Linked DNA regions of Homo sapiens: all the other regions are linked to region 1. Evidence: fine-mapped expression QTL. A gene starts in region 1. Each other region holds a variant in brackets. All regions are shown on one strand. Distances are between the middles of the regions. Region 1 holds the start of AP3B2 (adaptor related protein complex 3 subunit beta 2). Region 2 has its middle 37 kb from the start of RPS17. Region 3 overlaps GOLGA6L9 (golgin A6 family like 9). Region 4 overlaps FSD2 (fibronectin type III and SPRY domain containing 2).

The links. PIP is the estimated chance that this variant, and not a neighbour inherited with it, causes the effect.
Region 2: its variant is the best candidate, but not a certain one, in a credible set for the expression of AP3B2 in atrial appendage (GTEx, PIP 0.90).
Region 3: its variant is the best candidate, but not a certain one, in a credible set for the expression of AP3B2 in pancreas (GTEx, PIP 0.63).
Region 4: its variant is the best candidate, but not a certain one, in a credible set for the expression of AP3B2 in lung (TOPMed, PIP 0.64).

The regions. Positions count from the first base shown.
Region 1 is chr15:82,707,065-82,712,285 of GRCh38, reverse strand. AP3B2 (adaptor related protein complex 3 subunit beta 2) reads left to right here and starts at 2,411. Exons shown (of 27, transcript NM_001278512.2): 1 at 2,411-2,692. The coding sequence starts at 2,580. It also overlaps the pseudogene LOC338963. RefSeq lists silencers at 2,358-2,407, 2,628-2,887.
Region 2 is chr15:82,500,525-82,505,745 of GRCh38, reverse strand. It overlaps the pseudogene GOLGA2P10. Among named protein-coding and RNA genes, the nearest start is that of RPS17, 37 kb to the left of the region's middle. The variant C/T (reference allele first, on the strand shown) is at 2,850.
Region 3 is chr15:82,436,160-82,441,380 of GRCh38, reverse strand. GOLGA6L9 (golgin A6 family like 9) reads right to left here. Exons shown (of 9, transcript NM_198181.4): 9 at 2,228-5,102. The coding sequence ends at 4,970. It also overlaps the pseudogene DNM1P36. Among named protein-coding and RNA genes, the nearest start is that of GOLGA6L9, 9.0 kb to the right of the region's middle. RefSeq lists enhancers at 606-1,108, 386-1,377. The variant G/T (reference allele first, on the strand shown) is at 2,888.
Region 4 is chr15:82,754,202-82,759,422 of GRCh38, reverse strand. FSD2 (fibronectin type III and SPRY domain containing 2) reads left to right here. Exons shown (of 13, transcript NM_001007122.4): 13 at 1-4,061. The coding sequence ends at 75. SNHG21 (small nucleolar RNA host gene 21) reads right to left here. Exons shown (of 3, transcript NR_110098.1): 2 at 4,639-4,794; 3 at 2,217-2,519. It also overlaps SCARNA15. Among named protein-coding and RNA genes, the nearest start is that of SNHG21, 6.2 kb to the right of the region's middle. The variant C/T (reference allele first, on the strand shown) is at 1,990.

The DNA.
Region 1 (5,221 bases):
CAGCTGACACCCACCCAGTCCCTGGTGTTGCCTTCAGGAGCAGTGGCAAGATGGGAGCTGGTTGGGGAAGGGGATCCTAGCGCAGGGGGGAGGAGGAGAGAATGGAATGGCTGGACTTTGAGATGAGAAGACAGTTGGATGGGGAGGAGGCACCATTTGCTGGAACTGAAGGGTTCTCAGTAGGGGCTCGAGGCAGGATGTATCTGTGATATCTGGACCTCTGGAGTCCCTTAAGCACAAGGAGGCAAGTGTGTGGCAGTGAAGACATTCTGCCTTGGGCCCAAGCCCAAGACAGGTCTCCCTGAGCCCTGGGCAGACCATCCGACCTATGGTCATTGGAAGGACCCACCTCCTCCCTATCCCAGGCCTGTGTAAACGCCAGGAAGGCAGGTCCCTTTCTCCATGCAGGCCCTGACTGGGGCAGTCAGCACCATTAAGTTCTTCCTCTCTGAGGCTTTCCTGGGTCAACACTTCGAGGCTGTGTAGTTGGAGGGCAGGGAGCCTGAGCCAGGAGACGTCTTCCTGTTCAGGCTGATTCCCCCCACCTGACGCTGGTGCGGGGCCCACGTTGGCATATACTGTGGCCATGGAGAGATCATCCACTTTGAGGGTGAGTGCCTCCAGCAGAAACACAGGCCCAAGTCTGCGGAGAGGCTGCCCAGCCAAGCCACGCCCCACCAGTGAGCTGGCTACTCGGGGATAAAGACTGAAGTCCCAGGCTGGGGGTACGTTTCTCTGAAAATGGGGTTTGGGCACTCAGGGTCCCTGAGGTCTCAGGAAATGGGGGTGCGGGATCACAGGGCATAGGACCTAAGCCTGGCTCTGATCCGCACCCCTCTGGCGATCCCCGCAGGCAAGAACTCAGGAGGCTGTGGGCTCCTGGGAAGTTTCTGGGCTCCTGGAAAGGCATCGTATCCAAACAGGGGCAGCGCCCGCTGCTGCGCTCCTGCTGGCGCGTGCTGCGCAGAGTGAGCGAAGCGACGGACGCGGACCCACCATCCTATCACTCCATGCGCAGCAACTGTGTGCACTTTGCACTGTGTCTGCTCGTCCCAGGTCCCAGCCTGGACCCCCGGCAAATAGACGGGAGCTCCAGCAGGTCGGTGAGCGTGGCCCAGCTACCTGCACAGGACCCATCCCACCTCCTGAGCAGACTAGCCAAAGCGCCTTATAAACGCGCAACTGCAAAATCCAGGCCCTTCTCTTCCCACTCCCCACCCAGGCCAGTTTTCTCCAAATTCAAGATCCACTTTTCTCTGGCAGGCACAAAGCCACCGGAACCAAGCGGACCCACCCACTTGTCTAGGTTATCCCAACAGAACCTTCTCATTACCCCAATAGAACCTTACCCCAGTAGAATTACCCCCAATAGAACTTTTCTACTGAGCCAAGCTCCACCTTTCTGGGCCCCACTCCTTCCCAGGTAGGCCCGCCAATTCTGCCCATGGAGACTTCGGGATGCTAGTTACAGACCAAGACTCAGGCCTTAGGAACTCCTCCAGTCCCCATGCCCAGCTAAAAGACTCCAGCCACCTCAACTGATGCCCAACTGGATCCTACCTCTTCCCCCAGCCCAATTCACTACTTTCCATCGGATCCAAGCCTTCCTTCCTTGGGCCTAGGGGTCACTCGGGCTCGGGAGCTGAACTGGAGGGCTCACATGACTCAGGAGCCCTGGTGGTCACACCAGACCCTTCTCTTCCTTTTCAGGTGTCAATGGACGTGGACGTGTCCCCGGATTAAGCATGACCTTGGCCCTCCTGGGTGGACGTGGAGGCTTCAGAAAGATTCATTAAACTACTTTCCAAAGCTTAATTAGATGTTCACCGTCCTCTGTATCCTGTTTCCCATCTCTCTAAGCCCCCAAGGGCTCCTCGGAGCTCCCTGACCTTAATTCCTTAAATTCCGCCACCTCCAGGAAGCTCCTCGGCTTCCTGCTGCCAAGCCAGATTTTGTAGGAAAGGTGGGGCGGGAAAGGGAGCGTCCTTAGGTATCTGAGGCCGGTCCTCGGGTGCGGTGACCCCTTCCCGCTCTAGAACCCCCAGCCTGCGGGCACAGCCTTCTTTCCAGTTCCCGCTTTCCCTCCACGGCGTGGGTGAGCATCCGCGCGTGCGTCTGGGGAGAGCGGAGCCCCAGAGGCCCGTCCCGCCGAGGCCAGGTGGTCGGGGGTGGGGGCAGCTATTCCACATCCCCTGCAAGACGGTCCCAGCGTCCGTCCAGCAGACTCGCCCACCTTTAGATCTGGAGACGAGCCAAGTCGCTTTAAAGGGCAGAAGACGCCCTGAAGAGGGCATTTCCTAGGGATGGGCGGGGCCAGGCCCTGACGCACCGCCCCTGTCGCCTCCTCGCGGACACGCCCTCCGCTCGGCTGGCGCCGGTGCCTTTAAGACCTCAGCGCGCGGCCCTGATTGAGAAATCCGCGCGCAGCCTCCGCCGCTGCACACTGCAGCCTCTGCTGAACCCCTGCCGCGCCGCCGCCTTCGCCAGCCCGGACCGGACCGGCCCGCCTTCCCTTCCTCCGCTCCAGCCGGCCTCCGGCCCCGCAACCTCCTCCTCGGCGAAGTCTCCCTGGCCGCCCCATGTCGGCCGCCCCCGCCTACAGCGAAGACAAGGGCGGCTCCGCTGGCCCCGGGGAGCCCGAGTACGGCCACGACCCCGCGAGCGGCGGCATCTTCTCCTCCGACTACAAGCGGTGAGGGAGCCCGCCAGGAAGCTCGCGGGAGGGTTGGGGCCGGGGACCGGGCGAGGCGCGCGGGCACCATGGACAGCGCCCGGCCCCAGCGCCGGCCCCGCCCCGGCCGCGCCGACCGGAAGCCCGCCCGGCCCCCTCCTGCGGCCTGGAGCCCCGGCCCAGCGCGGGCAGCGCTGGCACCCCGGCTCCAGGGGCCGGCCTAGGACGCGGAGGGGGGCAGATAGGGGCTGGCGGGGGATGGGCCAGCTCAGTTTCGAGAGGAGAAACCCTCCGGTTCCAGGTGTTTCTCCGGTTTGCGGCGTTGCGTTAGGGGTTCCCTTCCTTTTTCGTGCTAGGCGGGTTGGCTTCCCAAAAATGTGGGGGAGGGGTCTGAGTCAGCGAACTTGAGCTTGAGCCTGGGGCCTCTTCAGGAAGGCGGGCCCTGGATGTACTTGCACAGCCTCCCAGCTTGGCCCTGCTGCAAATTCATTTCCCCTCCCTCTGGTCCCCATCTCCATCTGACCCTCACATCCCTGCTCCTGGCATTGCCCCTGTAGTTCAGCTCCACCTTCACACCCTCCCCCACCTTTGATTCGTTCGTTTGTTTCTTCATTTGTTTATTCGTAAATTCTGCAACAAGCATTTATGAAAAGCCAACTGTGTCGAGTCCTGAACTAGTCACGGAATACAACTGTGAACATGAGACCCTTCTTGTCCTCACGATGCTCTAGAGGGGAGCACAGATGAAGAAGCAGTCAGGGACAGTCGAGTGTAATGGGGGCAGTGGGAGCAGGGAGAGGACCTAGTCTCTGGCGCCGGAGAGAAGGAAGACAGGAGCGTGAGGTATGTTCCAGGCAGAGGAAAGGGCTTTCAGGAAGGTTGAGAGCCAGGCCACAATCTGTGTGAGCCACTGGACTGACCAGAAAAGAGGGTGGGGAGGACTCCTGAAGGATTCTAAGCAGGCGACATAATCAGATTTATATTTTAGAAGGACGTCAGGCTGCTGCATTGTGGAGAAGAGATTGGAGGTGGGCCAGATTGAACAAGAGACAAGGGAGGTGGGTCTTGAAGTTCACAGGCCTGGCATGATTGTGGCCTAGACCAGGGGAGAGGCAGAAGATTTGAGGCTGTGGAAGAGGTGGAAGCCTCAGACCTGATGATTAATTGGATATTGGGTGGGGGTTTAGAGGGACAGGGGGAGAAGATGAGGATTTTCACGCACGTCCATGTGAAGAGACCACCAAACAGGCTTTGAACAATAAAGCTTTTTAATCACTTGGGTGCAGGCCAGCTGAGTCCGAAAAAAGAGTCAGCGAAGGGAAATGGGGTGGGACCGTTTTACAGGATTTGGGTAGGTAGTGGAAAATTACAGTCAAAGGGGGTTGTTCTCTGGCGGTGGGGGGACACAAGGTGCTCAGTGGGGGAGCTTTTGAGCCAGGATGAGCCAGGAGAAGGAATTTCACAAGATAATGTCATCAGTTAAGGCAGGCACAGGCCATTTTCACTCTTCAGTTACTTCAGGCCATCTGGATGTATACGTGCAGGTCACAGGGGATATCATGGCTTAGCTTGGGCTCAGAGGCCTGACATTCCTGTCTTCTTTTATTAATAAGAAAAATAACATAAAATAGTGTTGAAGTGTTGGGGCAGCAAACATTTTGGCGGGGGGTGGTATGGAGAGATACTGCTTCTCCATAGCCTTGAAGGGCTGCTTCGAGCGGGATTGGGGTGGCGTGGGAACCTAGAGTGGGAGAGATTAAGCTGAAGGCAGATTCTGTGGTAAGGGATGATATTGTGGGGTTGTTAGAAGAAACATTTGTTGTATAGGATTATTGGTGATGGCCTGGATACGGTTTTGTATGAATTGAAAAACTAAATGGAATAAGAGAAGGAGAAAAACAGGTATTAAAGGACTAAGAATTGGGAGGACCCAGGACATCCAATTAGAGAGTGCCCAAGGAGGTTCAGCATAGCCCTGCCAGCAAAGATTATTTATTTACTTTAAGAGGGAGTTAAGACTGGCAGTTTGGGGATAGCACCAGGAGATATCAGCTGTAATGGTTTGGAGAAACAGTGTAAACCGGCAGTGTAAACAAGAGCAGGGCATGTATGAGTAGTTGAGTATGGTGAATAGGAGTATGACTAGTCAGAAGATAGTAGGGATGACAAGTTTTCTGGGGCACAGTCCAAGTTGGTCTGGTGTCTGGAATGAGACTGGGGCCTAATAAAAAGGAGCATCTATACAGGAGCTTGAATGGGCTGTACCCTGCAGCATTCCGAGGACAGGCCCAAATTCTGAGAAGGGCAAGTGGTAAAAGTATTGTCAGTCCTTTTTAAGTTGGTGGCTGAGCTTGGTGAGGTGTGTTTTTAAAAGACCATTAGTCCGTTCTACCTTTTCTGAAGATTGAGGATGGTAAGGGGTATGAAGGTTTCACTGAATACCAGGAGCCTGAGAAACTGCTTGGGTGATTTGACCAGTAAAGGCTGGTCTGTTATTGGACTATATAGAGGCGGGAAGGCCAAACTGAGGAATTATGTCTGACAGAAGGG
Region 2 (5,221 bases), 210 kb after region 1:
CGGGCACGGTGGCTCACACCTGTAATCCCAGCACTTTGGGAGGCCGAGGTGGGTGGATCACCTGAGGTCAGGAGTTTGAGACCAGCCTGGCCAACATGGTGAAACCCCGTCTCTACTAAAAATACGAAAATTAGCTGGGCATGGTGGCACACGCCTATCATCCCAGCTACTCGGGAGGCTGAGGCAGGAGAATGGCTTGAACCCAGGAGGCAGAGGTTGCAGTGAGCCAAGATGGTGCCACTGCACTCCGGCCTGGGTGACAGAGTGAGGCTCCACCTCACAACAAACAAAAAATTATGAGATTTTCCTTTTTTGCAATTTTTTTAAAGCTTAGCAGCTATTATTAGTGTTCGTGTATTTTATGTGTGGCGCAAGACAATTCTTCTTCCAGCGTGGCCCAGGGAAGCCAGAAGATTGGATCCCGCTCCTTTAAGTTTTATGGATTAACAAGGGGTTAATTCCTGTATCAGTTTCACTGATGTTTCTTCTGCTTGATGCAGGAACACTTGACAAGTTAGTTAAGGTAGATTGGTCCATAAATGTATAGGTTCTTTCATTCCCATGTCCTAGGCAAGTCTGAGCAGGACCTGGAAAGCTGATTAAAAGGCCAGTGAGCACAGTGAGCTTAATTGTAAATTAAATGGATATTTAATACATTAAGAAGGCACTCAAGCCTTTCAATCTTTCATTTTCATCCATGCTTGCTATTTGAATCTGATGGGCTTGATATTGACCTTGTTCTTCTTGTAAAAATGTTGGTTATTGCTGCCTTTCTCAAGCTTGGTTTTCAGTGTGGATTTCTGCAGATAATTTTTGCACCTAAAAGTACAAAGTCATTAAGTGAAGGCAGTCAGGAAGGAAAGAGTGCCCTGAGCCAGGAGGTCTGTTATAGCACATGGGGTGGGCAAGAAAATGAATGGACATGGGCATGGAGGTGGTTCAGTCAGTGTGGGAAGGCCACCTGCTTGTCAGCTTTCTACTGCGTTGTCCAGCAGAACACGTTGAAGCTTGGGGCCTGCAACTCGTGTAGAGATGATTGCATTTAGGAGGCTGAGGTAGATTTTTTCCCTCTTAAGTGTGTGCTCACTGCTTTTTGGCGAAGTCTTGACCCGAGACATACACAGCTTGATCTGTGAGGATTTTAACATCGAGATGGTTCTGTTATTTGAGTTAGGCATGGCTAGGCTACCAAGGCATTGCTTTTCAGTCCAAACATTTGGTCATTTCAATTTATTGTTAGTGAGGTTTTTGCGATTTGTTAGAACACAGAGTTTGGGATTTTGTCTGTTTTTTGCATGTGTGAACGACACTTGATATTGTTGTTTATATTGCTGGTTAGTATGTGCCTTCATTTACCTATTGTGAGTAAGAAACTTCCTCAGATCAAATTATAGTGAAGTCGCTTGGTTCTGTTTCTCTGACTCTTAAGAGGATGAGATCACTTTATACACAAACTCAAGCTGTTTGGTAAAGGACCTACCATTCTGAGCATTCATAGCCTAGATGAAGTCCTGGTCCAATCACCAAGTTAAACTTTTAAAAAACATGCTGTTCTTAATGTTCAGGAATTCAACCCTGGAAGCCTTCTCTAAATCTTAGTGAGAGTTTTATGAGAATTCATTTAGTGAAAATATCTATCAGGGAATCCGGCTATTAACTTTGAGGAGGGTCATGCCTTTTAGTGGTTAGAGAGGCAAGCTGTAGCCTCCCTTCTCAGAGAAGGGGAATTGAGGAAGAGGGTTCTAGTGGTCCCTTGCAATCCTCCCCTCACTTTCCAGGCTCCCTAGTAAGACCGGAAGAAGTCCCTGAGTAAACAGCATTTTGTGAGTTTGAGGGACTATGTAAAAATGTAAGTGAACATACAATGGTTTTGCTTTGATAACTGTTTTAAATATCCTGTTGGTTGTTGAAACTTCTGTGACGGTGAAGCCTTTTTTGCCTTTATTTTTCAATCGGAAGATCTTTCTTCCCCACTTGAAAAGATGGAGTCTGGGGTCAATCCCTGACCCCGCTTCCTTCCTAAATCTCTTAGTGTATAGCATACAGCTGGGCATATGGTAATCTCAGGCACGGGATTGTACTCATAGAGCTATGCTTGACACCTAGGTCTTTAGATGGCTTCTATATTTTTGATGACAACTTTTAATTTTATTCTCATTTATTCCATTTCTGTTTCAGTGTCCTGGGTCATGAAACTTAATCCACAACAAGCTCCCTTATATGCGAGTAAATCATACGATTTCTTTTCATTTTGTATTTATTTGTTCTGTTTACTTGTTATAATAAGCCACACTCTCACATGATAGATCCTCAAGGAAAATTTTAACCATATGTGCATGAATATATTGGTGTAAGACACTTCAGAAATTGAGTTTGATTTAGTAAGTACTAAATGGCTAATCTGTGCATGGAACTGAAAACAAATAATACCTGTAAGACTTGAGAGTTAATTTAGTCAGGGCGATAGTATGCACGTATGAAACAAATTGTCCTGCCAAACAGTACTGTAGCTTCTTATTTTTTACCTGCAGTGCATTCCTGTAAAAGTAGTGTGGAGATCCTCCTACTGCCACTGTGATTTACGTTATGTTGCCACTAGGTGGCACTATGTCATTGGCAAGAGTGCTGTTTTCTTTAGGACTCTGGGTGAAAGCTGATATATCATCTCCCTGAAGTGAGGGACTTTGAAGATAAAATTGATAAATGATTGAATCAAGGCTGGAAAAGGTAGGCTGTAGGCGACTATTCTTCATTATTGTAAGAGTGAATTAATTGAATTTGGGTGGTGAAAAGTACCCGTTTGATGAGAAGCCAGCTTAGGGTTGTGGATGGTTAGAGCTGTGAGAGGC[C/T]AGTAGATGCTGGGTTGCTATGCTCTGGAGAGGGTGAGAAAATATATTTGTAATAGGACTTGATTCCAGCCTTCAAGAATATGGATCATTTATTTGGACAAAACGTCCCCAGAATTAGTTGAAGACAAAAGGCAAATGGTCAGGAATGGGAGGCAGTGAACATAGTGTTGGATGAATAGTCGGGGGATGGTCAGTGGAAACTCTGGCCCACCCAAGTTTGTGTCAGGTAATAATGGGAGATAAGCCTGAAAAGGTGGATAAAGCTCAATTGTGAAGGAAGACAAAGGTGTGAGGATTTTGTTTTGTGACCACCGAGGAGCCATTGATGGTGTTTATTTTAAGGATGCTTTTCCTTTTATGCGTTTGTACATAAAAACATAAATGTACTTAACCATTCTGTATTAATAATAGTCATTTACCTTTCCAACATAAAATGTTCATGTAACTTCTGCATAGCTGATTTTTACGTTAAATGTAACATGTAAAGAAATATATGTGTGTTTTTAGAAGACGTCTTATGTGCTCATTTTCTTTCTAGATTACTTGGAGATAATTTATGTTTACCAGTGGTTTTGCATGTGAACTGGGTACCTTGGGTTATTTATTATTATTATTATTATTATTTAGAAAACGGGTCTCGCACTGTCATCCTTGTTGGAGTGCAGTGGAGCGATCATAGCTCGCTGCAGCCTTGAAGTCCTGGGCTCTAAGCAGTCCTGCTTCAGCCTCCCGAGTAACTGGGAGTACAGGCGCATGCCACCATGCCGAGCTAAATCCTCCCTTTTAAAGTGTGTGATTCTTTGGTTTTTCGTGTGTATACAGTTTTGTAATTGCCATTGTCTGACCAGAACATTTTCATCACCCCCCAAAAAAAGTGCCATATCCATTAGCAGTCACTCACCATTCCCTGCTCCTCTCAGGCTGTGGCAACCACTTGTATACTTCCTGTCTTTATTGATATACCTATTCTGGAAAGTTCATATATATGTATGATATATATGATGTATATATGATGTATATATGATGTATGTGGTATATATATGATATCATATATAATATGATATCTATCATATCTATCATATATAATATGATATCTATCATATCTATCATATATAATATGATATCTATCATATCTATCATATATAATATGATATCTATCATATCTATCATATATAATATGATATCTATCATATATATCATATATAATATATCTATCATATATATCATATTATATATATATCATATGATATCTATATCATATATATCATATGATATCATATATCTCATGATATCATATATCTCATATGATATATATCATATATCATATATATCATGATATATATCATATATCATATGATATATGATATATAATTTTTGTAAATATATATGATGTATATGAAAAAATATATATCATATATGATATATGATTTTATATATTTATATATAGAAATTTATATATATAAAATTATATATAATATATATAATTATATATATATAAAAGTTCATGTATATATAAAATCATGCAATACACGGCCTTTTGTGACTGGCTTCTTTAATTTAGCATAGTGTTTTCAAGATTCACTCATGTTAGAACATGAATCAGTACCTTGTTCTTTTTATTAATGAATGACAGTCCAATGACTGGTTACATCACATTTTACTTATCCATTCACCAGTTGATGGGCAGTTGAGTTGTTTCCACTTTTGGTCTATTATGCATAATGCTGCTGTGAACAGCAAGTTCTGGTGAAGACATATGTTTTCATTTCTCTTGGGTATATACCTAAGAGTAGAATTGCTTGGGTGTATGATAACTGTGTTTAACATTTTGAGAAATTGGAAAACTGTTTTCCACAGTGGCTGCACCATTTTACATTCCTACCAGCAGTGTGTAAGGACTTCAGTGTTTCCACGTGCTTGCCAACACATGTTATCTGACTTTCTGATCTATAGCCACCCTAATGGGCGTGAAGTGATACCTCATTGTGGTTTTGATTGCATTTCCCAAATGGCAAATGATTTTGAGCATCTTTTTATGTGCTTATTGGCCGTTTTTCCGTATCTTTGGAGAAATGCCTATTCACATCCTTTGCCTGTTTTTAAATTGGGTTGTCTTATTGAATTGTAAGGGTTCTTTGCATATTCTGACTACAGGTCCCTTATCAGATACATGATTTGCAAAAATTATCTCTCATTCTGTGGGTTGTCATTTCACTTCCTTGATGCTATCCTTTCAAGCAAAATTTTCAGTTTTGATAATGTTCTGTTGTTGATTTTTTTTTGGCATCATATCTAAGAACAATTCTTTGCCTAACCCAGAGTCACAGAGATTTACTCCTATGTTTTCTTCTAGAAATTTTATAGGTTTAGCT
Region 3 (5,221 bases), 270 kb after region 1:
ACAGCTGCTGCAGCGCACCCATACTCTGCACTTGCCTCACCAGCTCTGGCTTTTCTCTAACCCGTTTTCTCTCTGCTTTCTCTCCAACTGCCAGCTGATTGGGTCAGGCAAGTCCATCCCATCCGGGGAGCCCCAGGCCCCACTTCGACCTCTAAACAGATTCCTCCTCTTCTCAGAGACCTCCCTTTCCAAGCCTGCCTGGGTGGGTGTCCTGTGACTTGACAGTGGCTCCCCCAGCCCCAAAGCCAGCCCCCTTCTTCTGTGACTTAGTCTGTTGTAGTGGTGAGCTGACACGTCCAGGTTTGACCGTTGCTGAAACTTGTGCCCCCTCTGTGGTATGCCCCTGCCCTGTTCTATAAATAGCTATAAATTCTCTCTCTCACACACACACACACACACACATATATACATATATATACGTGGCCAACTGCCTCGCCTCTAGCACTGGGAATCAGTCCCCGTGCTGTGTTTGTGGAGTCTTGTAGCCCAGCAAGAGGAAGCTGTCTCCTGACATCGCCCCTCCAAAGTGCACCACCTCCAGTGAGCTTCCGGGACATGCGCGGCCTGTGGACAGCCAGCCCCCGCCATCCCTCCCGCCCTTCTGGCCAAGCATGGCGGTGCTGTGCAGGCAGCTGTGTGGCCTGACAGTCTCTACCAGTCCTGCTGTCCCTCGGCTGAGAAACCCATTTCTGGATGACAGAGAATGTGTCCTCTGCTGGCTGTGTTCTCTATGGAGCTCAGGGGAGGGAAAAGGCCAAGCCATTTTTAGGGTGCTGTTGGGAGCAGTGAAAAGGTCACACCCTTTTCAAGGGACACTTTTCCTGGAAAGTCCCTGGAGCTTAGCTGGCTCTTACCCTGTGAAGCCGGCTCTGGCCACTAGGGGACAGGGCCCTGAACTCAGCCTGGAGGGAACCTGCGGGGCAGCCGGCACTCTGGAGGGACAGACAGGCCACCCGGTGCAGACAGGAGAGGGAGGCAGGGGGACAGAACGGAAGACACCTGGGGTGGATGGAAGTCAGTGCCCTTGGGCACTGGTATCTGTCTTCCCTGCCACAGCTAGATCAGGCTTCTCAACCAGTTGGCTGTCAGGGCCAGAGTGTACTCCGTAGGCGCCATGGCAGTCCCCATGAAATCCACCAGGTGTCACCAGGCAGCATACAGGTAACAGGCCTGGAAGGTCCCCAACAGCCCAGCTGGACATGCTGAGACACTCTGGGGCTCCTCATTCAGTGGGACAAACTGCAGGACCCAGTGAGGGAAATGGGAACATACCAGGCCGAGCAGTATGGCTAAATCCATTTATTCCAAAATCAAAAGCAAAAAAAAAAAAAAAAACAGGAGTCCCATCACCAGGGAGCCATGACCCCATCCCCGCCTCCTTCCTCGCTCCTATGCTAGCAATAAATAAGTTTCCCAGCCGCGAATAATTATAAGAACCTCTTCCTCATATGCCAGCTGCAACCTCCGCTAGGTACAATACAGAATGTTACACAGCTACAGTATGTACACGGGGGAAGGGGGGCCACCCCCAGCAGCCTGTGCCCTGGCCTGGTCTACAGTTAACTCCACTGTCCCGCCTCAGCTGCCTCTCTGAGTAAGAAGATGGGAGCCCCCCTGAGGGAAAAGTTGCTTTGGTGAGAGTAAGAAGGCCATCAGACCTCCTCCAAACAAACCAACTCCACCAACCTCTGGCTCTTAAATAACAAACATCATCATCCAGAAATGTAAGGACTCAGCCTTGGTCAAGGTGGTAAAGGGTCTGTTTGTCTCCCTCCATTAGACAAGGGTCTTGTCTTGCTACCCTAATGGTAAAGGGCTGACTGGGGAGGGGCTGTAGGGACATGGTGGGGGTGAAGACTCCAGACCCACTTCTCCAGGCTTATGCTGACAGGGGCCTGCTTTTATTTATTTTTATTTTTATCCCATGACTTTTTTTAAATCCTGTAACTAATTTTTCATAACTTTTTAAAATAACTTTTCATAAAACTTTTTTTTTACTTTTTTTCCACAACTTTTTTTTGCCACTTTTCCACAGTATTTTTTTATCCTGTAACTTTTTCATCCCACAACTTTAATTCCTGTTAACTTTTTTAGTTTGTGTTCTTTTAATAAACACACTTACATAGTTACAATTTTGTAAGAATAAAAACCGATTACCTCATGCCAAGCATGCCGAGAATTTGCAGAGTCTCAATACCCAGTACTATAGTTTTCAAGACACACAAAATTTTTAGGCAAAACAGCACCTTGAAACAATTTAATAATGTATTACATTATAGTAGCATCACAGCAGCAGTCAATAATGCCACTTTAGACAAAAATCAGTATTTCCATTATGCATTCTGTGTATAAGAATTCATAAATCGGTAAAAGTCATTCTAAGAAAACTTGGCAAATACAGCTTTGGACTGGAATTGGCATTTCTTTGTCTACTTTTCCTTCCCCTAGATTCTTTGTTTTAAACTACAGTATTCATATTTTAAAATGTTTTAAATTATTTTAAGACGTTAATATAGCAGTTACATTTTTGAATAGTTATTTGAAAGTGACTGTAAGATAAAGTTTTAGAGAATCTATTATGGATAGGGTTGATTTACATTTTCACATTTTCTAAAAATCAGCTTTGGTTTTAGAACTGATTGTTTTTCATTTTGGGAAAACCTACCAGGTTTAATCAATTACTTTAAAAATAATTATCATATTTTGCAGTCTTTAAATAGGTGTTTTGATTCTTTACTCCCTACAGAAATTCAAATTTATTCAGTTGAAGTCACATTTTAAAATTCTATGTTCCTGCTGAACTCTAACCTTCTAATGTTGCCTTCTAAGCAAATTAAAGGCTGCCTTATACTGAATGAGGTAGAGAACAAATACTTGGCTGAATGAG[G/T]TACTGCAAAAGACTGCATGCACTTTGAAGAAAGACTTGTCATAGTTATTGTCATAGTTATTGTCATAGGATTTCCATTCTCTTTAGCTTTTTCTTAAACATATGACAAAATACCTACACAGAGAGTGGTATTTGAGTTAATATAGTACATTTATTTTTCAGACTGACATTCAGCTTAAATATGCCAGTATGTGATTTAATCCACAGGTACCTGATGAACACATTATTGTCAGATTGGTTACAGTTGCTAAATGCTATCTGAAGGTCATTCCTAGTCATTTATACGTGTCAGGGTAAAAGTGAAGCGATTTGAACTATAAAAATACCTTTGAAATAATTTATCAATGTATTAGGTAAGCTCAGTTTCAGAATGATAAACTGTTAGACCAAATAATGTGGCTAATTAACAGTGGTACGATTTCTAGCCTGAGGGTTTAAAATGGGCTTAAAGTAACTGTCTTTAAACTGAACTCAAAGAATGCAAAAGCGGCAAGTTCAGACAAGGCAAGAACAGGACCTTTAGTCCATTTTAAGCCATAAATATTACACAAAATATGCCTCTAACTGAAACTGAGAGGTATAAAAACATATTTCACTCTTTGTAAAGAACTTTGTGAGGAAATATAACTCTGTGATTGTATAGACACTTTCCTCATGACACTTTGACATTCACGAACAGTAGATTGTGCTGCAGTTTGTAAACGTTTTACGTTGCATAAACTGCTCCTTGATTTTCAAATGTAGTATAATACTGTCTACTAAAACTCCTTTTTGTTTCAACTAAGTACTCTCACATATATTAGTTTATAATAATGTTTGTTATTATTTTTAAAGTGTTCTCCATTCAAGGAAAAGAAGTAAATTCCTATGTCAGATGGTTGAAGACTAGCTATTAGCCAGAGAGGTCTAGATGGTAAAATCCATCTTCTAGCCTCAAATAAGCTCCATGAACACAGAGGAATGCCAGGTGTCACACAGCTTTCCTTCACTCGAATTCATTCTTGACTAGAGCCTGTATATGCCTGTTCCAGGGGCATTTAAACTCTTAAAGGATTTCTTCTGATCTTTACTAAATACATTAAGGAGAACGCCAACCAGTGCCCTTTTGTGTACTGGGACATGTAGTCATGTGATTAAAACAGGGAACATGAACTCTGACTTTAAAATGTATTGTAGATATAAATGCTCTCAGCTAGAAAAGGTTTTCCACATCCACAGTCATGATGGGAGCCTTTCATTCCTCAGAAATAATCCCTTTTCAGGTCATCAAAAAAGAGTACAACTGCCACAGCTCATGAGGCAGTATCTTCATGAGCCTAGAGCACATACAAATCCTAAGGGAACTACCGTAGTACAGCGCTCATTCTTGGCACCGGAACAAATGAAACATATTCTATCCTGCACACACCTGCCAAAGCAGGCCACTTTCCTCTTCTGGGAGATTTAAAAACCTCCCCAAAATGTTATTACTCCCATCCCCAATACACAGAAAAAGGGGGAAAGGCTGTTTCCAGAGGGCAAACCACATATTGAGCTAATGAAGAGCTCACTGTGATTAGGATTCGATCAAACATAACAGCAGAACATAAGGAAATTTTATCTGAATTCCGTAATGAATATACAGGCTGTACTAACATTAAAAAAGCATGGCAGCCTATCCCAAACCAGCAAGAACAGTTGTGTGCATACAGTGGGTCTTTGTGTGTTTGAACTCCCACCACATAAGGGCAAACTCGATATGCATGCTAACGTCCTATAATTATCAAATTAAAGAAATGCTAAAAGATGCCAGAGTGAACATGAGAGAAAGACCCACTCTCATTTAACTTTTTACAAATAAATTTAAATTATAAATTAGAAACAAAAATAAATTTAAACTATAAATTAGAAACACAAATAAATTTAAACTATAAATTAGAAACAAATAAATTTAAACTATAAATTAGAAACACAAATAAATTTAAACTATAAATTAGAAACACAAACATAAGTGGCTCTAACATTCAAATGAAGTAAATGAATTGTGTAGGATATTAACCCCTTAAATGTTTTGTTTTTTTTTTTCAATTTCTTGACCCGCTCTTAGATGATGGTGATGTTTAGCTCCCTGTTCTCGGCAGCCCGAAAAGAATGGCATGCAGCCTCTCCTGCTCCTCCTGCCGCCTCTCCTGTACCAACAGCTTCTCCACTCAAGCCTGGGTGCTCCTGGGGAGTCCTGCATTAGAGGAAGCAGCTGCTGGATCTGCTGTGCAGTGGGGTTGTCATGGGGGAGAACCCTCCCTGTCCTCTCCCGGTGCAGCCTCCATGCTATCAGTGAGGCTCAGCTCACTAAGA
Region 4 (5,221 bases), 47 kb before region 1:
TTTTCTTTGGAAAAGCCTGGGTGTCTAAAGGTACATAATGGCATTTCAATGCCAAAACATGTCACTTTCTATTAGAACATTCTGATGTCCAGTTTCCTGTCTTCCATGCCTACCCCTCTCGCAGCTGCTCACGCCTTAGCTGGCTGAACCTGGCACTTAAGCACCATGTGCCCAGCACAATTTATGGCTCATGCTATTATCTGACTGGTGTGCTAGCGCTCATTTCACCCAACCTGGATTCTAGTCCTGTGTGCTGCTACCTGTGTGCTGCTAGGATAGTCATTACCAGGCCCAGCTGTAAAATAAAGGCTCAGACTAAACGAACTCAAAAGTCTTTGAAGCTGTCAAACTATATTCGTGTATATGCAAAATATCTTGAGTTTCCAAGACCTAGAGAGCTTGGGAGAGGACGAGGGTAGTCTTAATGGCTCCAGCAGCACCAGTACACCCATGCATTTCATGAGTCAGCCAAGAATACACTTGAGAAGGCGAGAGGCTGTCTGTAGAGAACCAGGGAAGCTGTGTGCCCTTCTCAATGTCTTCTACCCTCGTTTTCCCAATAGTGAGCAGCACTGTGGTGAGGTCCCTTCCACTGTGTACTCTGCATACAGGGTATTCCCTGTTCCACTCCTACACAGTATGCACCACTCTCTAATTTTGAAATTACCTCTATAATGCCTAATTCCATGAAGGGAGGGACAGTGCCTGTTTTGTTCATTGCTAGATCACCAAGGGCTAACACATAACAGCTGTCACCAAGTATTTGTTGAATAAATTAGTATCTTCTTCAGCCACTGCTCTTTGGCCTCTTACTGCTCTCCATGTGAAGGATGGCAGGGCTCTTTCAAAACTACAGCAAAGGACCTATGGCCAAGAAATGGGAAAAAACCTAGAATGGAGGCAGCGTGAAAGAACAGAAGGGCATCTGTGGCATATTAGCAAATGCACAACAATTTTTTAAAAGAAATTAACAGCCCACCAAAGGGCAAAGCTGAGCACGGGAAGGAAGACTGATCTCTAGCTAGGCAGCTTTCAGGCATCCTGCCTCACTGCCCCCAGGCCATTCTGTGAGCTCAATGCCCAACTCCATCAGCTACATTCCTGGTTCTCCTGTTCAAGTTTCCAGTTGCCACTTAAGCTCTGCACACACAGCATTTTCAAAGCTTGTGAGTGAAGCTGCAGAATAATTCCATTTGTGAAGCAATTACAATTCAGTATCATGTCCCACAGATGCCTCTAAACCCAGATATGCCCTAATCTCATCATTTAAGGTTTTGTGTTTAAAAAAAAAAAGTCCACTTTTCTTTTTTCTGGCGAAACCCCGTCTCTACTAAAAATACAAAAAATTAGCCGGGCATGGTGGTGGGCGCCTGTAATCCCAGCTACTCAGGAGGCTGAGGCAGGAGAATTGCTTGAACCCGGGGGCAGAGGCTGCAGTGAGCCGAGATTGTGCCACTGCACTCCAGCCTTGGCAACAAGAGCGCAACTCTGTCTCAAAAACAAACAAACAAACAAACAAAAAACCTCTGATGTTTTCCAGCACCTGCAAAGTCTGACAAACTGAAAGACTCTCATCTCCTACTAAACTCTGCCTACTCGTATAAATGGCAGCTCAGATTCCTGAATTAACAATTCACACTGACAATTTAATAACTCGTTATACACACACACACCTATCCTGCCAAGCTGGACTGTCTACTCTGAAACAAGGGACAGCAGATGTAAGCACAGAAATAGTTCCAGTTATAAACAATTAAAAGATACATATCATGTATATTTAAAAATGTTCTCGGCCGGGCGCGGTGGCTCACGCCTGTAATCCCAGCACTTTGGGGGGCCAAGGTGGATGGATCACAAGGTCAGGAGATCGAGACCATCCTGGCTAATACGGTGAAACCCCGTCTCTACTAAAAATACAAAAAAATTAGCCGGGACTGGTGGCGGGCGCCTGTAGTCCCAGCTACTCGGGAGGCTGAGGCAGGAGAATGG[C/T]GTGAACCCGGGAGGTGGAGCTTGCAGTGAGCCGAGATGGCTCACAGATCAAGACTCCATCTCAAAAAAAAAAAAAAAAAAAGTTCTCAGCTACTGAAATAGAAACTACCAAGTAAGAAACAGGATATCACAGAGAAGGCAAGTTTGAATTCAGGGTTCTAATAGGCTTTATGGAATACTACACGTTAGTATGAACACGGATAAATGGATTAAAAACTCAACACGTATAAAGTTTTAATTAAATTTTTATTTGACCAAGAAAAAACTGTCTAGAATTGCCTGACATTTAAAATCCACTTAAAGCAGATTAGCAACTTCAAGCATCACAATTATTCAGCATAAAGAGCCTTTGTTGAAACATCTTTCTCATTTATTTAGAAGAAAACATCTAGAACAGAACCAAGCAAAACTTTTGTATTTTTGTAAAAAATCTCAATTCCTGAAACTACTATAAACAATCTACTGAAACTGTATTCAGCAAGGGACAGATTTACCTCAAGGCCATGTTCACCTGCAACCTGCTGATAAGTCTGTTAAAAAACAAAGCAAAAAAAAGAGTTTTTAAAAATTAGACCACTGTAGCCACAATCCCTAACACTGGACAGTTAAAACAAAAGTTATCAAAATCTGTTCTTTTCTTAGCTTTACCTGTATCACTTTATAACTCCTGAGAAAGTCATTCACATAAGCTGTGGCCTCCCCACCTTAACAAAGGGGAAAAAGAATATGTAAAACCACCACAGAATCTTGGCGTAAACTAACATGGGTTTAGTAATACAGAGTACAGTATTCAGGATTTAAGGCACCCTTACAAGTCAGAATTGGAAAGTTGGTTTGAGACTTGCAATCTAAAATGACACTGATTTCTGATAAAATTAAATGACTTTTATTTAGAAAAGTGTGTTTAATAAATTACTTCCTGCTGGTTCAAATGACACACAATCACTTTGTATACATCCAATAAGATATTTCTGAAGTGTATACTTGGTCAAAAGTAAAAAGCAGAGCAAATGCATGGACAGTGGGGCCTTCTTCTTAATACTTCTCATCCTCCAAAATCTGTTAAAATCATCATCTTCCACAACTCACACACTGGAAGCTGTCCACAGCACAATTCACTGTGATGTGGCATTCTGTAAATAAGACTACATTGGTCTTGATGCAAGGCGGTTCAGCTACCAGACTGCACTATAAGAAAAGTCCTCTCCTCAACTTACCAAGAAAACTTCGCCAATTTCTAGTCACCTTCCTATCAATTAGTAGAGCAAGATTCTCACATGTTCACTATGTCTTTCTCCAGTTTTCTCATCTATAAGTGTACTACTCCTATTTTCTATAGGAAGACAATGGAAAGCGTGTAATTGCTGTTGGTAGATAAGTAGGTCTTGAATTTATTTTGCAAACAAGACCTGTTCTATCTACCTTTTCATTTAGGAGGCTAAAAGCAGAGTCAGCTTGATTTCAAGGACTCTATTTTCTTAGTCTCCAGAAGAACATAACCAAATCCAGCTTTTAAAACACTGTCCTTTAACAAGTCAAGATACTCAAATAAAGATCATGTATAACTTCAAGCTATAGGAGATTAACTCTGTACATATGCTTGTTTCACTGTAACCAATGGTTAATTAATCTAAATGCAAGAGAAAAGTTATTTGGAAAGAAGACCCCAGCTGGTCAGCATCTTTTCTGTCATCAGGAAGTCTCCTGGAAGGAGTATGACTATGACCTGGGCACAACAACTGCCCCTAAGTTAGTACTTATTTTAGAGTTGCTACTGAACAGGTGGTGGTTCTTGTCAAGTATATCATGTCTGACTACTTTACTGCTTGTTTTCTGCTATCACCAGTTCCAGAAAAAAAAAAAAAAAAAATTAAGCCCAACTCACTAATTGATTGCTTTTTCATTTTCCCAGACTGTGACAGAATCATGGTTTTTAGCTCTATTTTCACCTTACTCAAATCCTGGAGGAATTAAACTATCATTTATTTGAAATGTTACAAATTAGCCTGCAGTTGATTCAAACAACATGTAGTCACTCAGACATAGCAAATAAAAATGTTTTGGTATATGAACTTGGATTCTAATCTTGCTGTCTCTACTACTCTCATTCCTAAGTATAAATGTTAGGTCTCTTGCTTGAAAGGAATTTAAGAGATGCCCTTAAATTCAAACAGACTGGCTCGCAGAAAGGAATATAATCCATTCACTGGGAAAGTACACAGCCAACAAAACTGAGATTTCCCAACTATGCACTGTAACAATGCAGAAACACAGTTTTAGAGATGGCTTTACTGGGTATATACATCGCTCTTGGTAGACCCATCTATTATTCTGCCACCCAGAAAGATTCTTACCCTCCTACTTCCTTCCAAACATTCATTTAATTTAAAGGTGACAGGGACAGGGAGAGGGAAGGAAAAAACAAGAAGCACTATCCAAAAGTAAGAACAGTACTCTGGAGAAAGGTAAAAGATACTCAACACTGTTTTTTGTACCATTTACGATTTATAAATCAGCCACAGAGTCCTAGGCACCCAGAATGGACCTCCCCTTCCTTGTCTACCTAATGCCTGTATAGCTCCAAAATCACCTCTTGGAAACACTGCCTTATTCCTCCCCCTCCCAGGAGAGGTTAAGTGCCACACTCACCTCTTTTAGATTACTTCAGTGGCTATACTGCAATCATTGACTTGTGTCTGCTCCACTTGACTATAAGCAAATTGAAGGCAGGGTTTGTGCCTTCATAATCTCTGAATGATCTGAAGATGGAAATAACTGCTTTGTGCTTTCAGGGAGCTCATATACCTGCAAAGAGAAAAGAGACATCAAATTATCTTCCAAAATCAAAGGAAAAGCCTCTTTATTAGAAAGCAAAGCAGCTTTCAAATTTGTGTGTGCTTGGGGAGTAGAAGGAAACATTAAAAATATGAACCTGCTGGGCATGGTGGCTCACACCTGTAATCCCAACATTTTGGGAGGCCAAGACAGGCAGATCACCTGAGGTCAGGAGTTCGAGACCAGCCTAGCCAACATGATGAAACCCCGTCTCTACTAAAAATACAAAAATTAGCCGGGCATGGTGGTGGGCGCATGTAATCCCAGCTACTCAGGAGGCTGAGGCAGGAGAATTGCTTGAACCAGGGAGGCGGAGATTGTAGTGAGCCAAGATCACGCCATAGCACTCCAGCCTGGGCAACAAGAGTGAAAACTCCGTCTCAAAAAAAACAAACAA